Linked DNA regions of Homo sapiens. The protein of the gene in region 4 purifies or fractionates together with the protein of the main gene of each other region. This does not show direct contact. Each region holds a gene or a part of one and is shown on either strand. Other genes may lie near its edges.

What was found.
Region 1: the proteins of BRD8 (region 4) and CMC1 purify together in Homo sapiens (affinity purification with mass spectrometry, with the first as the bait; one large-scale study listed by BioGRID). This does not show direct contact.
Region 2: the proteins of BRD8 (region 4) and GCDH purify together in Homo sapiens (affinity purification with mass spectrometry, with the first as the bait; one large-scale study listed by BioGRID). This does not show direct contact.
Region 3: the proteins of BRD8 (region 4) and SGPL1 purify together in Homo sapiens (affinity purification with mass spectrometry, with the first as the bait; one large-scale study listed by BioGRID). This does not show direct contact.
Region 5: the proteins of BRD8 (region 4) and PKP2 purify together in Homo sapiens (affinity purification with mass spectrometry, with the first as the bait; one large-scale study listed by BioGRID). This does not show direct contact.
Region 6: the proteins of BRD8 (region 4) and DDX24 purify together in Homo sapiens (affinity purification with mass spectrometry, with the first as the bait; one large-scale study listed by BioGRID). This does not show direct contact.
Region 7: the proteins of BRD8 (region 4) and ZNHIT6 purify together in Homo sapiens (affinity purification with mass spectrometry, with the first as the bait; one large-scale study listed by BioGRID). This does not show direct contact.

What each region holds. Positions count from the first base shown.
Region 1 is NC_000003.12:28,244,619-28,248,118, forward strand, and holds part of CMC1 (COX assembly mitochondrial protein homolog), read left to right. Parts: intron 1-3,500. UniProt on the Homo sapiens protein: Component of the MITRAC (mitochondrial translation regulation assembly intermediate of cytochrome c oxidase complex) complex, that regulates cytochrome c oxidase assembly.
Region 2 is NC_000019.10:12,894,160-12,897,329, forward strand, and holds part of GCDH (glutaryl-CoA dehydrogenase, mitochondrial isoform a precursor), read left to right. Parts: exon of another isoform or gene 1-752; intron 753-1,832; coding exon 1,833-1,962; intron 1,963-2,045; coding exon 2,046-2,262; intron 2,263-2,750; coding exon 2,751-2,854; intron 2,855-3,143; coding exon 3,144-3,170. UniProt on the Homo sapiens protein: Catalyzes the oxidative decarboxylation of glutaryl-CoA to crotonyl-CoA and CO(2) in the degradative pathway of L-lysine, L-hydroxylysine, and L-tryptophan metabolism. It uses electron transfer flavoprotein as its electron acceptor. Isoform Short is inactive.
Region 3 is NC_000010.11:70,822,448-70,825,947, forward strand, and holds part of SGPL1 (sphingosine-1-phosphate lyase 1), read left to right. Parts: intron 1-3,500. UniProt on the Homo sapiens protein: Cleaves phosphorylated sphingoid bases (PSBs), such as sphingosine-1-phosphate, into fatty aldehydes and phosphoethanolamine. Elevates stress-induced ceramide production and apoptosis.
Region 4 is NC_000005.10:138,172,131-138,175,630, reverse strand, and holds part of BRD8 (bromodomain-containing protein 8), read left to right. Parts: intron 1-3,496; coding exon 3,497-3,500. UniProt on the Homo sapiens protein: May act as a coactivator during transcriptional activation by hormone-activated nuclear receptors (NR). Isoform 2 stimulates transcriptional activation by AR/DHTR, ESR1/NR3A1, RXRA/NR2B1 and THRB/ERBA2.
Region 5 is NC_000012.12:32,793,017-32,795,777, reverse strand, and holds part of PKP2 (plakophilin-2), read left to right. Parts: intron 1-2,761. UniProt on the Homo sapiens protein: A component of desmosome cell-cell junctions which are required for positive regulation of cellular adhesion.
Region 6 is NC_000014.9:94,071,203-94,074,702, reverse strand, and holds part of DDX24 (ATP-dependent RNA helicase DDX24), read left to right. Parts: intron 1-3,500. UniProt on the Homo sapiens protein: ATP-dependent RNA helicase that plays a role in various aspects of RNA metabolism including pre-mRNA splicing and is thereby involved in different biological processes such as cell cycle regulation or innate immunity.
Region 7 is NC_000001.11:85,652,934-85,656,433, reverse strand, and holds part of ZNHIT6 (box C/D snoRNA protein 1), read left to right. Parts: intron 1-2,335; coding exon 2,336-2,376; 3' UTR 2,377-3,500. UniProt on the Homo sapiens protein: Required for box C/D snoRNAs accumulation involved in snoRNA processing, snoRNA transport to the nucleolus and ribosome biogenesis.

The DNA.
Region 1 (3,500 bases), on a different chromosome or scaffold from region 4:
CTCAGGAGGCTGAGGAATGAGAATTTGAGCCTGGAAGGCAGCGGTTGCAGTGAGCCGAGGTTGCGCCACTGCACTCCAGCTTGGGCCACAGAGTGAGACTTCGTCTCAAAAAAAAAAAAAAGAGGAAATAGGGATAATTCCAGTTTTTGTACGTCAGCAGCTGGGTGGAAGGTCATGGTCAAATCTAACAATGTGATTATTGGAAACTTCATCAAAGGAAGGAATGGAAGCAATGGAGAGTAAAAAAGTGGAGTCAGCAAGTAGGAAGGTTTTTTTTTTTTTCCCTAAATTGTTTTGTCTGTTTAAATTCCAGAATAAAATGTATGGAAGCCAGTTTTTTTTTTTTTTTAATTTCGTGTTTATTTGGTTCATACGTTGAAGCTTAGTTTCACATTTTGATGTTTTACTGCTTTGTACAGCCCACGATGGTATTTGCCCATATTGAGTAAGTGAATAATAGATACACCAATTGAGGTTCATTTAGCAAAATCTGTTTTCCTATTGGTTTATTTTGTATTTTCTGTGATCTTTATAGAAGCTTGATTTTCATTTGGCAGCAACTTTTAATTAACTTTGTAGGGTCTCTGTTTTCCTCAAGAAACTGTGAACCCAGCGAAAAAATGCAGGTTACATGCTTATACATAGTTTTATTTACATTATTTTCCTTTTTTTTGTTAATGTAGCAGTAATAACAGCAATCTTTGCTTATTGCCATGTTCCGGACAAATTTTCAGACATGATTATATTCTCAGATGATGGCCCATAGGAACCTGCACCTGATAAATTTGATTTTTCACTTTCTCTATCAACTAAAGTAATTCCTTTCTCCCTTCTTTGACCTTTCCCCTTTTTAGTTAGGTTCTCTTCCCTCTGTCAACATAGATTCATTCTCTACTTATGCAGAATGGGGCATGGCAGCCTAAGGGAAGTTTCCTTAATCAGGTGTGTGTGTGTCCCTGTGTCCTTCTATTGCTGTTTTTTTCCGGGAACTTAATAAAAGGAGGAAGATGGGACAGAGATAGGGCTTAGGGGGTGGAAAGTGGGTTCAAGAATTTCATGACATTCCATGAGAAGGTGTTTAAGGTATATGTGTCTTGGGAAGATTTAATTATGGATGTTCTTGGAACATTTGGGTTGCAGTACTCCAAGTTGGGGTTCTTTCAGTGGTTCCTGTGGGAATGTAGGTAAATTACCTTTAGGGGTACAGGAACAGTACTAGCCCTTACATTTACTAGAAAATTTTAAGTTAGACATGTAAACAAACTTGAAGAATCTTTTTTGAGCATTGTATGTTTAATATGTAAAAGGTTGTGGAGTTGATTAGAAAAATTTTTTATTTTTTTTAGTGATGGGGTTTCACCATGTCGCTTAGGCTGCACTTGAACTCCTTGCTCAGGAGCACTTGAACTCCTGGGCTCAAGTAATCTGCCCACCTCGGCCTCCCAAAGTGCTGGGATTATAGGCATAAGCCACCCTGCCTGGCCTATAAGAAAAATTTTGATTTTATTATTGCCGCCATATCTCTAGAGTATCTTCTTAGACATAAATTACGTTGGTGGCTCAGAACAAAAAAAAAAAGACCTAACATCTACATTTTGTATATTTATAAATTAAAAGCATATTTGCCATAGAAAATACATTATTTTTGTCTCATCGGATTAACAACTCTCTGATGGTTGCTCTGTGAAATTTGAAAAACACAGGCTTAAGCAAAGACAATAAGAAAGAAGAATTGAGATCAAAGAGGAGTATGTGCCATGGCAGTGGGTTGGGGGTTGGGATTTCAGTTTTGAAGCATGAAATGATCTGTAAACCATTTCAAGGATTTTGAATTTTATACTAAGAACAATGGGAAGACACTGCAAGTTTTTAGGTAACGGAGTGACAAACAGAACTCTCCTTATTTTGTGTTGATCTGACTTTTGTTTAGATCAAGAATAACCTTGATCTCAGCCACATACTGCATACATGATGTGTCTTTCCAGAGTATCCCATCTGGAGGTACATGGGTATCTGTCTCTCGTAGGTGATGTTAATTTTGATTACCCACTCAAGGTTTTGCCCTGTTTTGTTGCCGTATTTTCTCTGTTTTGCAATTAGTAACTAATCTGTGGGAAGGTTAAGACCTTGTAAATATTTGCTTCTCATCAAATATTTCTCTTTGATTTGGGGTCCATTGATTTTTTTTTTTTTTTTTTTTACCTGATTCAGTCTTTCCCATAATGGTTGCAAAATAATGATTTTCTACCTCCAGCACACTCCCTTCACATTTACTAGATGGTTGTTGACATTTTACTGTAAGCAAGAGATTGCTTTGTTTCATTTTCATTGATTTATGAATTTATTATTGGTATTTTTGGTAAGGACTCATGAACTGCTGTATTTTCAATCGTTTGTACTCTGTTAATGTACATAAGTATTTTTTGTGTTCAAATTTCCCCAGATTTGGCCAGAGTTCCCTTTAAGCTAGCTTCTGGATCTTTGTCATATACTCTCACCATTTTTTTGAGCATTTCCTTTTTATTCCCTCACACAAGGTATCACTGCTTCATCTTGTACCTACCCTGGCCAATCCATACAATTAGTTATTTCTCTGAGAAGCCCTGGTTCCTTTTATTTGGGCACAGTATTAGAGAGTAAGAGCTGGTCACTAGAACTGCATGTAATTTGGGTGGTTTATTAATAGATTGCCTTTAGGAAAAGAAAAAAAAAACCCTTAAGAGAGTAAGGAAAATAGGAGACGGGAGGGGAAAAATCTGAGCAAGGATGTGGTTTCAGGTCTTAACCTAATCAGCTCTGGTGTACCACATGGTACATACAGTTTATTGTGCCTTGGAGGCAAGGGAGCTGGGCTTTCATGCCCTTTTTCAGTCATTGGTTACTGTAGTAGTTGGGAGAGGGACAGCAGCAAGGAAAACAGCAAAGGGCTACCATGGCCAGGGGCAGTCCTGAGAAGGTTGCAGATGTGAATGCTCCAACATTCTCTGCTGCAGGAGGGATACCAGCTCTATCCTAAAAATAATTTATCTGAATCTGTTAGGAATCTTAGTTGGATAGTAAGAGTTTTGATAGTAGTGAGAGTTCAGATAGTGACAGGTCAGATAGGAATGGGTACTTGCACACATGTATACATACACACAGGTGTGTGTACTGCATCCAGTAAAGTGTCACAGGTTGTGGTTAACAAGTTTGAATAACACTGGCTTAAGATATACCTAAGGTAGGCTAAGCTGTACTTTTTTTTTTGTCTTCTAGGCCATCGTACATGCTGTTCTCTCTAGAATTTCTCCCATCTTCCCTATCCCCAGGTCTACTGAATTCTTGTTCATTTTTCACAACTCAATTTAAAATCAGTTTCTTAGGAGAGTTTTCCTGATTGCCACCACCTCCAGTTAAACATTTTTTTTTAAGGTTTAGGATTAAAAACTCCACCAAAATATCATATAACCTATGTATAGAGTTGTTTTCCTTTTAGATATAAAATCCTTTTCTTTGACGAA
Region 2 (3,170 bases), on a different chromosome or scaffold from region 4:
ACTGGCTGCCAGAAACTCATTGAAGTGGACGATGAACGCAAACTTTGTACTTTTTATGAGAAGCGTATGGCCACAGAAGTTGCTGTTGACGCTCTGGGTGAAGAATGGAAGGGTTACGTGGTCGGAATCAGTGGTGGGAACAATAAACAAGGTTTCCCCTTGAAACAGGGTGTCTTGACCCATGGCCGTGTCCACTTGCTACTGAGTAAGGGGCATTCCTATTACAGACCAAGGAGAACTGGAGAAAGAAAGAGAAGATCAGTTCATGGTTGCATCGTGGATGCCAATCTGAGTGTTCTCAACTTGGTTATTGTAAAAAAAAGGAGAGAAGGGTATTCCTGGACTGACTGAGACTATGATGCCTCGTCACCTGGGGCCCAGTACAGCTAGCAGAATCCGTAAACTTTTCAGTCTCTCTAAAGAAAATGATGTCTGCCAGTATGTTGTAAAAAAGCCCTTAAACAAAGAAGGTAAGAAACCTAGGACCAAAGCACCCAAGATTCAGCGCCTTGTCACTCCACATGTCCTGCAGCACAAACAGCGGCGTATTGCTCTGAAGCAGCCGCATATTAAGAAAAATAAAGAAGAGGCTGCAGAATATGCTAAACTTTTGGCCAAGAGAATGAAGGAGGCTAAGAAGCACCAGGGACAAATCGTGAAGAGACGCAGACTGTCCTCTCTGCGAGCTTCCACTTCTAAGTCTGAATCCAGTCAGAAATAAGATTTTTTGAGTAACAAATAAGATCAGATTCGCAAAAAAAAAAAAAAACCCACAAGGCCCTGTGTGACCAGGCCTCTGCTGACCTTTCCACCTCATCTCTGGCCACTCATGTGATCCTCCCAGCCAGACTTAGCTACTTGAAATTCTCCAGAAGTACCACCAGTTCTTTACACATCTGTTCCCTCTCCCAGCACTGCTCTTCCCCACAGCCTCCTCCTGCTTAACTCCTCACACCCTTCCAGTTTGGCCAACTCCTTCCTGATTCCCTGGGTCCCCCTCCCCATCTTGGCATTGTGATCATGACTTTGGGGTAACCTGTCTCTTGAAAGCAGGGCCAGATCTAACTTAGTTATGAGGTCTGACTCAGGGGCGAGGGTAATTTTTTTTTTCTTTTTTTGAGACAAAGTCCCGCTCCGTCCCCCAGGCTGAAGTGCAGTGGTACAATCTTGGCTCACTGCAACCTGCGGTTCCCCAGTTCAAGCAATTCCTGTGCCTCGGCCTCCCAATTAGCTGGGATTGCAGGTGCTTGCTACCCGTGCCTGGCTAATTTTTGTATTTTTAGTAGAGATGGTGTTTCACTATGTTGGCCAGGCTGGTCTCGAACTCCAGACCTCAAGTGATCCATCTGCCTTGGCCTCCCAAAGTGCTGAGATTACATGTGTGAGCCACCTCGACTGGCCTAATTTTTTGTATTTTTAGTAGAGATGGGGTTTCACCATATTGGTCAGGCTGGATTTTTTTTCTTTTTTGAGATGGAGTCTTGCTCTGTTGCCCAGGCTGTAGTGCAGTGGCATGATCTTGGCTCACTGCAACCTCTCCTGCCCGGGTTCAAGCGATTCTCCTGCCTCAGTCTCCTGAGTAGCTGGGATTACAGGCACCCACCACCACATCTGGCTATTTTTTTTTTTTTTTTTTTTTAAGTAGAGATGGGGTTTCACCATGTTGGCCAGGCTGGTCTGGAACTCCTGACCTCAATTGATCCACCTGCCTTGGCCTCCTAAAGTGCTGGGATGACAGGCGTGAGCCACTGCACCCCGCCACGAGGATAATTTTTGAGTAAGGGGATGTATCAGGGACCAGGCAGCCTTGTGACTTTGTCTTGTGCCTGCAGCCAAGGGGGAGCTCCTGGGCTGCTTCGGGCTCACAGAGCCCAACAGCGGAAGTGACCCCAGCAGCATGGAGACCAGAGCCCACTACAACTCATCCAACAAGAGCTACACCCTCAATGGGACCAAGACCTGGTAAGGGTTCTGGGTGGTGGGCAGGTGGTGAACAGGGGCAAAGGGGCACTGGTCAGACCCCTCACCGACTGTTCCATCCCCAGGATCACGAACTCGCCTATGGCCGATCTGTTTGTAGTGTGGGCTCGGTGTGAAGATGGCTGCATTCGGGGCTTCCTGCTGGAGAAGGGGATGCGGGGTCTCTCGGCCCCCAGGATCCAGGGCAAGTTCTCGCTGCGGGCCTCAGCCACAGGCATGATCATCATGGACGGTGTGGAGGTGCCAGAGGAGAATGTGCTCCCTGGTGCATCCAGCCTGGGGGTAAGTGGCAGCCACTTTGGGAATGGGTGTTGGGTCACCTGCGGATGCGGCTTTGTCAGGCAGGCTCCGTGCTGGGGACGCGGCTCCCTGTGCCTGTGGAGCCCACACAGTGGTGATTCTTACTCAGCCGGACTCGCTGACGTGCTGAAAACTGCCCCCATTTGGTGACCGTCTCGCTCATCCCGGCTCTGCCCGGGACACATGGGCCTGAACCAGCTCAGTCATTTGACTCACAGTGCATCTTCTGGCATCCGTCAGCCTCCTGGCTCTGAGCATCGAACCCAGATGCCAGGCTGGGTGGGACTGTGTGCAAACCGAGTGAGCAGGCACCGAGCTTCAGTGCCAGGGCCATCTGTGATGTGAACCACAACCTGAGTCCCCCTGCGTGGGGTGGCTGGGGAGGAGGCTTTCCCTGCTTCAGAGTTGGTTCTGCATAGGCCCTCTTGGTGTCTCTTGGGTGGGCCTGAGGCGCCATCTCAACCCTACAGGGTCCCTTCGGCTGCCTGAACAACGCCCGGTACGGCATCGCGTGGGGCGTGCTTGGAGCTTCGGAGTTCTGCTTGCACACAGCCCGGCAGTACGCCCTCGACAGGTGTGTGAGGGCTGCAGTGAGATTCTCTGGGGGTGTGGGGCAGCTTGGGTTTCACTCTCTATACCATGGGTGACTCCCCAGCCCCCACCCACCAGGCCTGAGTTCCTTGCTCTGGAATGACCAGTGACGTCCTTCTGAGCAGCTGTGGGCTGAGTCAACGGCAGGGCCAGGGCAAGCTTGGGGGCACTGAGGCAGCCTGGGAAGGCGTCCTGGAGCAGGGGGCCCCAGGACAGGGACGGGGTGGGAGAGTGGGCCTCCCCTCGCTCTTACCCTGCCATTGCCCATGTAGGATGCAGTTTGGTGTCCCACTGGCCAG
Region 3 (3,500 bases), on a different chromosome or scaffold from region 4:
AATCTAATATTATATACAGTTTGTGCACATTGGTGGCAGAATTGAGAATCAGCCTGGGTTTAAGAATTTCCATAGGGAATTGATGTGAATCAGTCTGTATGTGTAAATGTACAGAACCCAATTACTGAGATAAAAACCATGCTGTGGGGGAAGGGGAGATAGGGGCCCTCTGAGAAGATGGAATGGTGAAGGCTGCGAGTAGTTTGTGGATATATCAGTCATATCTTGGCATAATCCAACAGCGTACTAAGGGATCAAGGGACTATTTTCAAGGCTGAGCAGGTTTAAGGAAAACATCTAGGTGAAACATCTAAGGGCTAGCTAGCAATAGGAGAGCCATTATCACTCTTTTTTTTTTTTTTTTGTCATGGCAATTTCACTGAAGCTTTTATTGCCTCTATTGGTAATATGACAGGGACTGTAAGAAACACAATTGAACTTACAGAGATATGCAGATGATATTCACTAAAGATAATCTTCATCTCAAGTATTTTTTATATGTGGGCACTTCTAATTTTATACATTTTTCTATTTAAAAAGCATTACATTTTAAAATTTGTACCTGTTTTGACATTTGGCAAAAAGGAAACTGTACCTATGGTTCAGTTTAAAACAAAGAATCAGCATGGGGAGTTTACCGGAATGAGGACTGAAACACTTAGGAGTTAAAGCAATTCAAGGGGCGTGTGTGTGTCTCTCCCTTTCTCCGTCAATCTCTCTCACTCTCTCTGGCTCTCTCACAGACACAGACTCAAACACACACAGCCATATGTGTAATCATTTTTTAGTACAAAATATTCCCTGTAGCCAGACATTTATCTTCAGAATAATCACACCACATTAAATCAGTCTTCTCTTTTCAGCCCTAGTAAAAGTTTTGTTTAATTCTAAGATGCCATCATAGTGAACAACCTTAACTTTTATCCTACATAATTATATTCAAAGCTTTATGTATTTTTGTTTATAATTACACAGTAATTATAAATGTTTAGTACCAACCTGATGACAAACACTATTTTGTTGAAAAGGTTTTGCATTTAAAAAGAAAAATATGTAAAATCCAAGGCACTAGGCCACGAACCAATATCAGACTTTTAAAGAAAACACTTTATATTGAAAAAAAAAAAAAAAAAAAGCTAATGGGATCTCATTTCAAAACACAGCATATGTGAATTAATCAATCTGAAACCAATAACCATAACTCAAAATCTTCAAGACAGGAAACAAAACAGTACATATATATAGATATATAGATATATATATCTTTTAAAAATTTTTCATAATTGAAGTTCCTCTTTATATTTACAAAAAAATCAGGAAATACTGAAAGCAGCAAGATTCTTCTTTTTCCTTTTTCTTTTAATAACCAATTCCAGTAGCCTGAATAGAAATTTTCAGATTTTTCTTTTGGTAAAACTGCATTCTTGAATTAAAGTTATGATTGGAATATTGATATGTCTATAGGGAAAGCTTTCTAGTCTATTTCAAAATCATGTAAATAAAAAGCAGTTTTGATATGTCATTGTTTCTTAAAATAATTTCCATATTTGCATAAAATGTACTGCTATTCTAAGTACATTCCTTTGTTAATATCAACCCTAGACCTTAGAGAGTGCCTGGATATATATCCCAAGCAGAATCTGTTCCTATCAAAAGACCATAATCATCGAACATTTGAAGCATTACATTTCTAGCCTGCCTTACGGAAATGTTTAAGAAAGCAAGAAACCCTTCTTCACATGTCAGTAAGTGAACAGGGAAATGACCATTTTCAGCATAAAAGCAGCTCATGGGTCTTGTAATGAAAAAAATACATACAAGATAGCATTCTGCTTTGATGAGAAAACTGAGCTAATCTGAGTGAAACAAAAACAGTAAAGAGACTAGAAGCCAGATTGGTATTTTGCATCATGTATGCTTGTTTGAAAATCTTTGCTCCTGAAGTAAATATTTGGCAACCAAGTGATTAGCGACCACAATTTCAACAAAATAATAAGTCATTGAAAATGGACTATTTGTCTGAAAGAGCAATACCTATATTACAAAGATTGAACTTCATGGCTCATTACAACCATTTTCAAAATTTAACTGCAACTATCTTCTTATAAATTAAGAGAGTTTAATTTGTGTTCCATAGTGCGATGACAAAAAAAAAGTAAAAACAAAACAAAAAAACCCTCATGCCTAAATTTAGAATATTGTATTATGTAGCAATCCAAAACATTCAAAACAAATTAAATAGTTTAACTTATGTGACAGGCAGATAAGCATTTCAAAAGCATAATGAAGTCCAATTATGTAGTGCTTAATGTAGACAGGAGAAGAATCTAACATTATGCAGACATTTTCTAAATAAAAGCTCCCTGTAGGACAGCTATATATAAACATGGGTAAGGTAAGCGCAGACTAGTTCTGTGGAACCTTTTGAAATCAAGAGTCTAAAACACAATACATTTTTCAGGTAGGCACCAAGTTATCCTAAAAAATTTTCATGTTGGTTATTCTGACGTTGTTTTTTCTCTTTTTTTTTTTTTTTGAGACAAGTCTTGCTCTGTCGCCCAGGCTAGAGTGCAGTGGCTCGATCTCGGCTCACTGCAACCTCCGCCTCCTGGGTTCAAGTGATTCTCCTGCCTCAGCCTCCCAAGTAGCTGGGATTACACTCTTAAGCCTGTGAGAGGGCAAGGAAGGGAGTAGTTTCTGGAACTTTGAGAGAGTTGAGATGAAGGAGAAGGTAACCTGTAGGAATGCCAGCCAGTGACCCAGTAGGAAAGGCATCAAGGGGAATAAATACTTCAAACTCTTTTGCTACCCTCTGATCTCCTGCTGTAGCCTCCCATTGGTCTAATACAACTGGAAACCAGAGGTTAAGGAGTCTGGTTGATTTAATTCAGAGGGTGGAATCCGGAGGCACATAGCCGAGCTGGAAAATGCTGGATGGAGGATCTGGAGGAGGAGATCATCTGGAGGGGAGAACATCCAGCATGCTGGAGTTGAGAGGTCTAGTTTGTCTTAAAAGGCACAAATGAGGAGATAATTCTTGAACAGAATCTTGAAGGTGGATAGCATATGGATTATAGAAAGGGAATGTTCCCACTGATTTTAACAGGATAGATTCAGAGGCACACAGTTGCCACAGCTTTGGCAAGCCCAAAGCTGCTTTGTTCCAGTAGTAGCCTTAGAATCTTAATTGCCTGGAGGGCCTTTAAAAGTACTGCAGTCCAGCTTTCTTGCTGCCTAGGAATCCCTCTACAATGCCCTGTCAGGAGTGAGTGCTACATACTTTCTCAGGGGGTTCTTTCCACTGTTGGACAGCTTTAATTTTTAGAAAATTTTTCATGTGTCCAGATCACTGAATGCATCAGCTAGAATTAGGTTTGAGTGTATATAACAGAAAAACCTAAAGTAATAGAGATTTTTTAAAAGACATAAATATATTTCTTTAAGAGAAAACTGGCCTGGCGCGGTGGCTCACGCCTGTAATCCCAACACTTTGGGAGGCC
Region 4 (3,500 bases):
TGGCCTCAAGTGATCCTCCCAGTTTAGCATCCTGAGTAGTTGGGAATACAGACCCTTGCCACCATGCTTGACTAATTTTTTGTGTTTTTTGTCACTTGTTGCCCAGGCTGGTCTTGAACTCCTGGGCTCAAGTGATCCTCCCACCTTAGCCTCCTAAAGTGCTAGGATTATAGGCGTGAGCCATCACTCCCAGCCTAGAACTATCATCATTTTACCTTTCTCGGTATCAGCCCCTCACCCCCTTTCTTTTGAATCATCCATTATGAATTTAACTCTCTTGCCACATTTATAAACAATTCAGTACTTTGCTGATTGTCATGCTTCCTAGCATTTTTTTTGTTTGTTTTTTAAATCTAATTTTTGAAGTAATATGTGGCCACCATAAAAACAAAAACACTATATAGAAAGCAATAGCAACAAAGAAATGGGTTAAAAACTTAAGTTTAAGGCCGGGCGCAGTGGCTCACGCCTGTAATCCCAGCACTTTGGGAGGCCGAGGTGGGCGGATCACAAGGTCAGGAGATTGAGACCATCCTGGCTAACACGGTGAAACCCCGTCTCTACTAAAAATACAAAAATCAGGTGTGGCGGCGTGCGCCTGTAGTCCCAGCTACTCAGGAGGCTGAGGCAGGAGAATGGTGTGAACCCAGGAGGCGGGGCTTGCAGTGATTTGAGATCGTGCCACTGCACTCCAGCCTGGGCAACAGAGCAAGACGCCATCTCAAAAAAAAAAAAAAAAAACTTGAGTTTATTTTTTGTCACACATACAGGAAGTCTAGGCAGTCCACAGCTCTCATAGCAACTTCACAGTGACATTAGAGGCTCAGGATATTCTCTTTCTGTTCCACCTTCCTCAGTGCATAGTTTATCTTCTGGTTATCTTATGGTTCACGGTGGCTGCTTGACCTTCAGCTATCACATCCTTGTTCCATGCAACAAGAAGGAAGGGGGTTGGTAAGAAAAGTCACATCTCTTCCCTTTTAACAACTTTTTTGTGATATAATTGATGTGCAGTAAACTGCACCTTTTTTTTTTTTTTGAGATGGAGTCTCTGTTGCGCAGGCTGGAGTGCAGTGGTGCAATCTTGGCTCACTGGAACCTCTGCTTCCCAGGTTCAAGTGATTCTCCCACCTCAGCCTCCCGTGTAGCTGGGACTACAGGCCTTTGCCACCATGCCTGGCTAATTTTTGTATTTTTTGGTAGAGATAGGGTTTTACCATGTTGGCCAGGCTGGTCTTGAACTCCTGACCTCAGATGATCCACCTGCCTCGGCCTCCCAAAGTGCCGGGATTACAGGCATGAGCTACGACACCCGGCCAGTGCACACATTTAGAGCATAAGACATGGTATTTTTGAAATATATATACATTTGTGAAACTATCCACAATTAAGGTAATTATTATAGTATCCATTAACAGATGAATGGGTAAAGAAAAAATATATATGTATACACACACACACACACACACACACAATGGAATACTGTTGAGCCATAAAAAAGAATTAAATCCTCCATTTGTGATTCCATGGTTGAGCCTGGAGGATAGTATGTAAAGTGAAATAAGCCAGACACATAAAGAAATACCATATGATCTCAGTTATATGTGGAATCTAGGAAAAATTATAGACCTCACAGAACTAGAGAATAGAATGGGGCTGGGTGCAATGGCTCACATCTATAATCCCAGAACTTTGGGAGGCCAAGGCAGGAGGTTGCTTGAGATCATGAATTGGAGACCAGTCTGGGCAATATGACAAAACTATAAAAAAACACAAAAATACTAGCCAGGTCTGGTGGTGTGTGCCTATAGTTCCAGCTACTCGGGAGGCTGAGGTGTGAGGATGGCTTGAGCCAGGGAGGCAACATAAGAGAAACTGTTCCCTACAAAAAAGAAAATTAGCCAGGCATGATGGTGCATCTGTGATTTCAGCTACTTGGGTGGGGCTGCAGTGGGAGGTTGCCTAAGCCTCAGAGGTGGAAGCAACAGCAAGCCATGATTGTGCCACTGCACTGAAGTCTGGGTGACAAAGTGAGATACTGTCTAAACAAAAACAATGTGTGTTTTGTATGTGTGTGTGTGTGTGTGTATACACATCACATATATTTGTATATGTATATAAATTGAGCTCATTTTTAAACAAAACAGGTAAACTGGTTTGAAATAGAATCTAATCTGTATATTTCCTCACATTTTTATTAGATAAATAGTGTTAAGAATCTTTTTTTTTTTTTGAGATGGAGTCTCACTGTGTCACCCAGGTTGGAATGCAGTGGCACGATCTCGGCTCACTGCAACCTCCACCTCCTGGATTTAAGTGATTGTCCTGGCTCAGCCTCCCGAGTAGCTGGGATTAAAGGTGCACGCCACCATGCCTGGCTAATTTTTGTATTTTTAGTAGAGGTGGGGTTTCACCACATTGGCCAGGCTGGTCTCAAACTCCTCATCTCAAGCAGTCTGCCCTCCTCGACCTCCCGAAGTGTTGGGATTACAGGCGTGAGTCACCACGCCCAGCCATAGAAAAATAGTATAAGAATACTTGAGTAAAAGTTTTAAATTTTATTATTTTATCAGCAGATACTAAGTCATAAGATTCAAAATTATATGCAGTGTCTTCCTCCCGTTACTATCCCCCGTCTACTAGTGTTAGCAGTTTCTTGTGTCTCTCCAGCAAAATTTTATGTGAGCAAATATTTTCTTTTTCCCCTTCATCCCCCTCATTTTCTAACACAAATGATTATATACTATATATGCTGTTCTTTTTTTTTTGAATGGCGGAGGGGGTGGTCTTACTCTGTCACCCAGGCTGGAGTGCAGTGGCGCGATTTGGGCTCACTGCAGCCTCTTGACTTCCTGGGCTCAAGGGATCCTCCTACCTCAGCTGCCCAAGTAGCTGGGACCACAGGCCGCAGGTACGCACCACCATACCTTGTCGATTTTTTTTTTTTTTTTTTTTTTTTTTTTTTGTAGGGATGGGATCTCCTCGGGTGGCTTGAACTCCTGGGCTTGAGCTGTCCTCCCACCTCTGCCTCCCAGAGTGCTGGGATTACAGGCACGGTCCATTGCACACCTCGCATTCATTGGCTTTTTTTTTTTTTTTTTTTTTTTTTGAGATGGAGTCTCACTCTGTCCCCAGGCTGGAGTGCGGTGGTGAGATCTCGGCCCACTGTGACCTCCGCCTCCTGTGTTCAAGAGATTCTCCTGCCTCAGCCTCCCGAGTAGCTGGGACTACAGGTGCATGCCACCATGCCCAACTAATTTTTGTATTTTTAGTAGAGACGGGGTTTCACCATGTTGGCCAGGTTGGTATTGATCTCCTGACCTTGTGATCCACCCGTCTTGGCCTCCCAAAGTGCTGGGATTACAGGCGTGAGCCACCGCGCCTGGCCATTCGCATCTTTTTTATTCCAAAGTTTGAACTCCAAGCCTTGCACTCTCAGCATACCTCTCCTATTGTTTTCTGCTTGGTGTGTAATAAAGCTTTCCTCATTTTGTAGGGTA
Region 5 (2,761 bases), on a different chromosome or scaffold from region 4:
GGCAAAGCAGGAGTCCTCTGAATAGGCAAGTGCCCTTTTCCTCACTTCCATCTTAGGAGGGGATGTCACACCAGGTGGTTTAGAAGAAGCAGTGATGGGCTGGGCACAGTGGCTCATGCCTGTAATCCCAGCACTTTGGGAGGCCCAAGCAGATGGATCACTTGAGGTCAGAAGTTCGAGACCAGCCTGGCCGACATGGCAAAACCCTGTCTCTAGTAAAAATACAAAAATTAGCTGGGTGTGGTGGTGCGTGTCTGTAATTCTAGCTACTTGGAAGACTGAGGTTTGAGAATCACTTGAGCCCAGGAGGCAGAGGTTGCAATGAGCCGTGATCGTGCCACTGCACTCCAGCCTGGTTGACAGAGTGAGATTCTGTCTCAAAAAAGAAAAAAAAAAAAAAGCAGCAGCAGCAGTGATGACACAGGAGAAGCAGTCAGGGGGTAGCCTGATGAGAAAGTCTTGCTTTCACAGTTTTTTCTCTGTCTTATCTCTTCCGCATCTTATTCCCTTTTGATAATAGAAGGTCCAATGCATGTCATTCCACATCTGTGTTCCTGTTTTCAACTTTTCCCTATTAAAAAAAAAAAGGAGGAGAATGAAAAACCTTGTATAACCAAATTATTTACTATTAGTTAATTTAGAGTGATGAGATTGGAAAGGGGCATGAAGATTATCTTTTTCTCTTTATACAATTCTGAATTGTTTGACTTATTACAAATAGATATGTTACTTTTGTAAATAACCAAACAAGAAAAGAAATGGCTATGATAGCCTAGTTTTAATGAGTTACAAAGCAGATGACTTCACCTGTACTGAAGAAATGTGTGCTTGGCTGTACAGGGATGTACATGTTACCTCTACTACAGCCCCACCCAATTTAGGCCCCTTCTGCTCTGCAGCCCCACTCTGCAGTGCACACAAGGAAGGAAGACTGCATTTAGAGTCAGATTAAAACAAGCCCTGAGCACTGGCTGGAGTGTCAGTTCCCCAAGAATATTCACCCATCCCCAGAGGCTGGCAGATAGTATTAGAGTTGCTCAGTCTTTGTGGAAAGAGTGAATTACTGTTGCAAAACAGAAATGACTTTTCTTCCAAATAGTCATCCAAACTTCCAAGCAAATCACCGTAAGATAGTATGATGCTCATTATTCGAGTATTCAGACATAACAATTGTTGCACATGGCAATATGCAATTACTTTTGGAAACTTCTGGTAGCTTAGCAAGATAAGGGGTGAGCTACTCTGTTACTTGTTTATTTCCGAGTGTCCACTTGTGAGTCCTCACATGCCCTGTCTCAAAAACAAAAGTTAACAAGGAGCTTCTTGCCAGTGGTGTCTGCTGCTCTTTCCTTACTAGAGTGTTATATATCTGACCTACCGTTTGTGGACTAGCCTGGGAACTAATTATCATTTATAACATTACATCTTTGAATAAAAGAGTACCAAGTATCAAACAACCAACTTATAAACAAATATTATGAATATAACAGCCTTGCAATTTAATAACTTTTTACAGTTTTGAATATTAGAGACCCATCACTTTGATGGATTTATTTGCCCTTCAGTTATTACCAAGTGATTCTGAAAAGTCCAGGGGTTACTAATAAGTGCTGATTTGACTGCTCCTCCCTGCCAGGCTAGTATGGAGGAGAAAGACTTTTCACTCTTGAAGGAACACACCATGCTCTTCTCCGTACATCTTTGCACTCTCTGGTTTTGGTTTTATGTTTACAAATGCCTGTGATATGGGGGGAAAAAGAATCTTTGTTTAAGAAAAAAAATCAGCCATGTGCTAATCAGGTGATAGAAGAGAAAGAGATCTAAGGCGGCACTGATCTAAGCCAGAGGTGGGACATTTAGGATAAAGTTAAAAGCAGAACATGGGCTGGGCACAGTGGCTCACATCTGTAATCCCAGCACTATGAGAGGCCGAGGCAGGCGGATCATGAAGTCAGGAGATCGAGACCACCCTGGCTAACACAGTGAAACCCCATCTCTACTAAAAATACAAAAAATTAGCCTGGCGTGGTGGCATGCGCCTGTAGTCCCAGCTACTTCGGAGGCTGAGGCAGGAGAATCGCTTGAACCTGGGAGACGGAGGTTGCAGTGAGCCGAGATCGCTCCACTGCACTCCAGCCTCAAAAAAAAAAAAAAAAAAAAAAAAGCAGAATATGAAAGACTAAGTACAGTTCAAATGCAGTGGTGACTTTGATTTATAGCAAGAACAAGTTTTCCATTTGCTCTATATGGAAACGTAAAGAGATTTTGAAACTGCTTTAACAAGGGCTGCCACAAGAATTTCTTTTATTGACTTGAAAAATTACTCCTACATTCATGATGTCACAAAATCGTATGTATTTTTCAGTCATGGTTTCATGCATTTTTATTCTATAAACATACATTATAAGTATACAAATATAGATTATATTCTATAAATAATTCAAGGATTTATAACATATCTAAAGATACATTCCTTATAAATATCAGGGATTTTTCTGTATAAATTACTTGTTTGTTTATTATTATTATTATTATTTTGAGATGGAGTCTAGCTTTGTCACCAGGCTGGAGTGCAGTGGCGTGATCTCGGCTCACTGCAACCTCCGCCTCCCGGGTTCAAGTGATTCTCCTGCCTCAGCCTCCCGAGTAGCTGGGATTACAGGCACACACTGCCACGCCCAGCTAGATTTTGTATTTTTAGTACAGACGGGGTTTCACCATGTTGGCCAGGATGGTCTGACCTCGTGATCTACCCACCTCA
Region 6 (3,500 bases), on a different chromosome or scaffold from region 4:
TAGCAGAATTTTGAATTGTAGTGGTAAAGTGGGCATTATTGCTTTGTGTTTGATCTTCTGGGGAAAACATTTAGTCTTTCACCATTAAGTCTGATCTTAGCTGTAGGTTTTTTGTAGGTGCTTTTTATCACGTTGTGGAAGTTCTCTTTGATTTCTCATTTGCTGAGAGGTTTTATCAGGGTTGGATGTTGGATATTTTTCAAATGCTTTTTTACTGCATATATTGAAATAGGTGGTTTTTCATTTTTAGTCTGCCAATGTGGTGAATGACATTGATTTTCAATTATGAAATTAGACTTACATTCCTGGGATAAACTGAACTTGGTCACAATATACTATTCTAATTATATTTTGTTGGATTTGATTTGCTAAAATTTTGTTGAGAATTTTTGAACTTATGTTCATGGGATAGTTGTAGTTTTCTTGTAATGTTTTGGTGTTGGAATCAGTAATGTAGCTTCAGAATGATTTCTGAAGTATTCTGTTCAGTTTTCTGAAAGAATTTATACAGGATTGACATTTTATACCCAACTTAAATTTTTGGTAGAATTCATCTGAGCCTGCACTTGTCTTTGTAGGAAGATTTTTGACTACAAATTTACTTTGTTTAATAGATTAGAGATATTTGTGTTACTTATTTTTTTCTTTTTTTTTTTTTTTGAGATGGAGTCTCGGTCTGTTGCCCAGGCTGGAGTGCAGTGGTGCGATCTCAGCTCACTGCAAGCTCTGCCTCCTGGGTTCACACCATTCTCCTGCCCCAGCGTCCCAGGTAGCTGGGACTACAGGTGCCCACCACCATGCCCGGCTAATTTTTTGTATTTTTAGTAGAGACAGGGTTTCACCGTGTTAACCAGGATGGTCTCAATTTCCTGACCTCGTGATCTGCTCGCCTCGGCCTCCCAAAGTTCTGGGATTACAAGCATGAGCCGCCACACCCGGCCACTTATTTTTTTCTTGAGTGACTGTTTTCTACTTGCAGTTCTATTAGTTTTTGTTTCATGTATTCTGACAATCAGTTTATGTGAATACATGTTTTATGGATTAAAATATTAGATTATTATTATATCCTCTAAATGAATTGGCTTGTTATCGTTATGAAATGGCCCCCTTTATCCTTAGTAATTTTTTTTTGTTCTAAAATGTCCTTTGGTATTGATGCAGCCAGTCCAGCTTTATTGATTAAGGGGTTAGCATGGTATGTGTTTTTCAATACTATTACTTTCCCTTATTTATATTTAATGTGAATTTCTTATAGGCAGCATATAAATGGGTCTTGCTGTTTAATCAGACAGTTCGTGTCTTTGAGTTGAATTATTGAAGCCAGGCATGGTGGCTCACATCTGTAATCCCAGCACTTTGGGAGGCCAAGGCATGTGGATCACTTGAGGCCAGGAGTTCAAAACCAGCCTGGCCAACATGGCGAAACTGTCTCTACTAAAAATACAAAAAAATAGCCAGGCGTGGTGGCATGTGCCTGTAGTCCCAGCTGCTTGGGGGGCTGAGCCACAAGAATTGCTTGAACCCAGGGGGCGGAGGTTGCAGTGAGCTGAGATTGTGCCACTGCACTCCATCCTGGGTGACAGAGTGAGACTCTATCTCAAAAAAAAAAAAAAAAAGAAAAGAAAATTAATTGAGTTACTGAGATTATTTACGTTTAATGATTATTGATAATGGTGGGTTTACTTATTTATTTTTTGACTGATAGCATACCTGATTTATTTATTTTTTTCACATTTCTGTTTTTTATTTTAAATTTTTTTTTCCTTTTCTATGTTTAGATGTTTATTTTTAATTTTTTTAAATTTTTCCATAAGTTATTGGTGTACAAGTGGTATTTGGTTACATGAGCAAGTTTTTTTGTTTGTTTGTTTTTTGAGACGGAGTCTTGCTTTGTCACCCTGGCTGGAGTGCAGTAGTGCTATCTCAGCTCACTGCAATCTCCACCTTCTGGGATCAAGCCATCCTCCTTCCTCAGCCTCCCAAGTAGCTGAACTACAGGCATGTGCCACCATGCCCGGCTACTTTTTGCATTTTTAGTAGAGACAGGGTTTCACCACGTTGGCCAGGTTGGTCTTGAACTCCTGAACTCAAGTAATCTGCCCACCTCGGCCTCCCAAAGTGTTGGGATTACAGGCGTGAGCCACTGTGCCAGTTTAGTGGTGATTTGTGAGATTTTGGTGCACCTATCACCCGAGCAATATACGCTACACCATATTTGTAGTATTTCATCCCTTGCCCCTCTTTCATTCTTCCCCCCAAGTACCCGGAGTCCATTGTATCATTCTTATGCTTTTGCATCCTCATAACTTAGTCCTGCATATCAGTGATAACATACGATGTTTGGTTTTCCATTCCTGAGTTACCTCACTTAGAATAATAGTCTCCAGTCTCATCCAGGTCACTGCAAATGCTGTTAATCCATTCCTTTTTATGGCTGCATAGTATTCCATCCTGTATATACCACAGTTTCTTTATCTACTCGTTGATTGATGGGCATTTGGGTTGGTTCCATGATTTTGCAGTTGTGAATTGTGCTGCTATAAAATTATGTGTGAAAGTATCTTTTTTGTATAATGACTTCTTTTCCTCTGGGTAGATACCCAGTAGTGGGATTGCTTGATCAAATGGTAGTTCTACTTTTAGTTCTTTAAGGAATCTCCACGCTGTTTTCCATAGTGGCTATACTAGTTTGCTTTCCCACCAGGACATAGAAGTGTTCCTTGTTCACCACATCCATGCCAACATTGTTTTTTTTTTGAGATGGAGTTTCGCTCTTGTTGCCCAGGCTGGAGTGCAATGGCGCAATCTCGGCTCACTGCAACCTCTGCCTCCCGGGTTCAAGTGATTCTCCTGCCTCAGCCTCCCGAGTAGCTGGGATTACAGGCATGCGCCACCATACCCAGCTAATTTTGTATTTTTAGTAGAGACGTGGTTTCTCCATGTTAGTCAGGCTGGTCTCAAACTCCCGACCTCGGGTGATCCGCCCATCTCGGCCTCCCAAAGTGCTGGGATTACAGGTGTGAGCCACTGTGCCCGGCTTTTTTTCTTTTTTTAAGTCAAAGGCTCACTCTGTTGCCCAGGCTGGGGTGCAGTGGCACAATCTTGGCTCACTGCAACCTCCGCTTCCCAGGTTCAAGTGATTCTCCTGCTTCAGCCTCCTTAAGTAGCTGGGATTACAGGTGCCTGCCACCATGCCCGACTAATTTTTGTATTTTTAGTAGACATGGGGTTTCACCATGTTGGCCAGGCTGGTCTTGAACTCCTGACCTCAGGTGATCTGCCCACCTCAACCTCCGGAAGTGCTGGGATTACAGGCATGAGCAACCGTGCCTGGCTGCCAACATCTACTGTTTTTTGATTTTTTGATTATGGCCATTCTTGCAGGAGTAAGGTGGTATCACATTGTGGTTTTGCTTTGCATTTCCCTGATCATTAGTGATGTTGAGCATTTTTTCATGTTTGTTGGCCATTTGTGTATCTTCTTTTGATAATTGTCTATT
Region 7 (3,500 bases), on a different chromosome or scaffold from region 4:
TGAAGCAATAAGAAAAGACTACTTTACTAGCGTACTGGGAGCCTTATTGAGTAAAATTTGCTATTTTTCTGGTGGATATATGATGTTTGACTTATTTACAGGAACACAAATGACTCATGCTTTTAGTACAGAGGATTATTTAGAACTGTGTTAGCAAAGAACTAAAAGTATCTGACAGGATTTTAAAACCATACCAGTTTTGTCACATCGTAAGTACACACACCTTAAAAGTAATGCCCAGGTCTTCCTGTACATGCATTTCTTTCTGTAAGTACTTCAAGGTGTCTGTTTCTTTATACATTCTCACAGCATCAGATATTTTGCAGGGTGATACCTTGATGAGGGAAGGGGATTATGTAAGAAGAGGGCATTTTCTTTGGAAAGCCTTGAAATTCCTTCCCTCTCTGGAGGTAAAAAAGTTGGATTTTGATCCTGAGTTTATAGTACAAGTTGTCTCTTTCCTAATTTGGGGGTACATGTGTTTCTGGTCTGGGATTCAGTAGTTCCCACACCTGATGGTTGTTCTAATATTTGTTATGATTGTAGATTGCCATAATTATTTGAGTCTGCCTATATTAATCAGCAGTAGCCAAGATTTTGTTTGTTTGTTGCTTTTCAGTAATGGAAAAGGTTAACTGGAAAAGATAGAGCTATTTAGATACTCCACTAGATTGGAGATGCTAAGTGCTGATTACCTACCTTATATCAGTCCAGTGGGAAGTGCTCAGAATGGTGTAACTTGCTTCACAGGCTGTTATTAGACTAGCAGATTTAGATGAGGGAGAAAAGCATGCTGCATTTCAATCTAAGGAAAAAAGAATGGAACCCTATTCAAAGAAGAAAACTGGGCACCTTCAATAGGCAAAGAAAGGGGAAAATGTCCCATACTGCTAAAAATCTTTATTAATTTAGAAATGTCAGCAAAATAAACTTTTTGATGTTCTAGTGTAACTCAAGATTAGAAAATGCCTCAGCCTTTAGAGAAGGAATCCAACCCAAAATTGATTACTGGAATTAGTGAAAATACCTGGCATAGCAGCTACTCATATATCAGTCTCTTATTGGGCCAGTAAATCTTTCATCCATTCTCCCTCGCTCACCTTTCCTCATTCTTCCTTACTTCTCTTTTCTTTCTTTTCCTTTTGCAGGGAGAGAGAGGAGGATTTTTGGCACTGGAACACGCATGTAAAACTTATTATACAATAGATGCTAAAATAGAGTTTACCTGAAGTACAGAGACAGCCAGAGAAGGAAAAAAACTTTTAATATCATGGAGGCACTGGATGGACTGCTAAAGTTCATAAAATTTCACAAAGATTGGGATGATATCTTGGATGGAACTTATTTCAGTGCCTTACTCTTAGAAAGGGCTCAGTAAACACCATTGTGGTTGCTGGTACAATCTGAAGTCTAGGTACAACAGCAAACCCCAGGGAACTTGTCAGTTGGAATATGAGGCAGTTCCAGGTGTGTGCTTCTAGCATCAGCTTTTATAAGCTGTGGTCCCTTGAGCATTTGCTCTGCCTCTCTGAGCTTTATTTTTCTTATCTACTCAGTGGAGATAACAGCTATAAGCCTCAAAATAACCTATATTTTAGCATGACAATTTTTAAAGAGTTACTACCTATTATTTCCTTTTAGCTTCACAAGACCATGAAATAGAACACTTACTCCGGTTCCCATTTTGCAGATTTAGGGAAAAAACACTAAAAGGCAGAATGATTTGCAGTTACATTGATTCAGCAAACATACTCTAAATTGTGAGGATAGATACAGAGAAGAAAGGTCGAGTTTCTGTCCTCCAGGAACTCTCAGTTTAGTGAGTGAGTCATAGTTAGTCTTGCTTGCTCTAAGCAAGACAGGGGTGTCAGAGGAGCTCCATTTCTATTCTTCTTTCCTGTGAAAGGAAGGAGATGGCGATTAGCTAGTCTTCTGTCACTCCACATTCACTCAACATATACTGACCCTCAATTAAGTTTAAAAAAAAATCATGGAAAAAATTTATTCTAACCACAAGTGGCTGGCCAGGATAATAGTGATCTATTCAGTGGCATGAATATGGATCATAACCACATTGTGAAGTGACCATTCCTAAGTCTTCCACAGAGTCAGGAAGGATGTTACCTCACAAAATATAATTGCCACTTTCAGACATCATTTCTCTATTTATTGTGGCCAGAATTGTATATCCTAGCTGCCTGGGACATGACGCGGTTTGTGTGTCCCTGTGAGCAGTGCTTTTGCTGTACATCAGAAGGAGGGAGAGAAGAGGGACAGAGCAACCTAAACAGAAAAATATAAACACTTGACTGTATGTTTACTTATTTTTTTCTAGTGAAGAGTGAATCTACCAAGAACGTTGGCAATGAAAATTGAGCATTTTTTCTGGAAGAAGAAAGTGAAAACTTCCAGACAACTGCAGCAGACTCTGCATTGATGGGCTGTTGGCTGATTGGGGTATTGTCAATGGGTGATTGGAATTTTTTCTTTGTATGAAAAATAAGCTTAACTCTTTTAAAAAATGTATTTTATAACCTCTTGAATTAATTGACTTGTAAGACCCATTTATTCATATTAAGAACTCTCCTTTGCACTTGATCAGCATAGTACTTATTAGGCCCTGGCTTTTTAATATGCTTAATTGCTTAATTCCATAAACTGAAAACTTTTTTTTTCTTTTTTCTTTCTTTTTTTGAGATGGGGTCTTGGAGTGCAAGTGGTATGAGCATAGCTTCCTCAAATTCCTGGGCTCGAATGGTCCTCTCACTGCAGCCTCCCAACAGGCTGGTACCACCACACTCAGCTAAGTTTTTTGTTGTTGTTTTTTTTTGGTAGAGACAGGGTTGCGCTCTTTCGCCCAGGCTGGTCTCAAATTTGTGGCCTCAAGCAATCCTTCCACCTCAGACTCCAAAGCATTGGGATTACAGGCATCAGCCACCACACCTGGCCTTGAACATTTTTTATTTGTTAATTTCATGCGTGACGAAACCCAAGGATCACCCATGTCAACCACAAAGTTGGCATTCCCTTTAGTAGAACCTCACTAAACGGAAAGGCTGTACAACGCACCGTCTAGCCACAGGAGAACTAATCTTCTATCAGTTGCCCTTTCTTCTTTGGAGTTTTTATGTAACTTACCCTTGTGAGACAAGTTTTCTACTTGAGAAACTCCTAGTACAATGTCTTATACTAGAAGCCTGGATAAATACTATTAACTACTGTTTCTTATATTCACTTCAGAAAATCAGTGGCTCCACATTGTTTGAGCCATTAGTGATAACAAATTTGGATCTACTTACTCAAGTCTTATGAATTCTGTGCCTTTCATCACATTCCTAGCCCACTCTCATCATTACTGCAGAAGGGTGTTGTGATGACCAGTTTTATACTGTGTTTTGATATGTCTAGCAATAACTTAAAGAAAAAAAAACCTGGGAAATCTTCAACATGTTATTGGAACATATATGTATGTATTAATGTATATACATGGCTTAACTTAT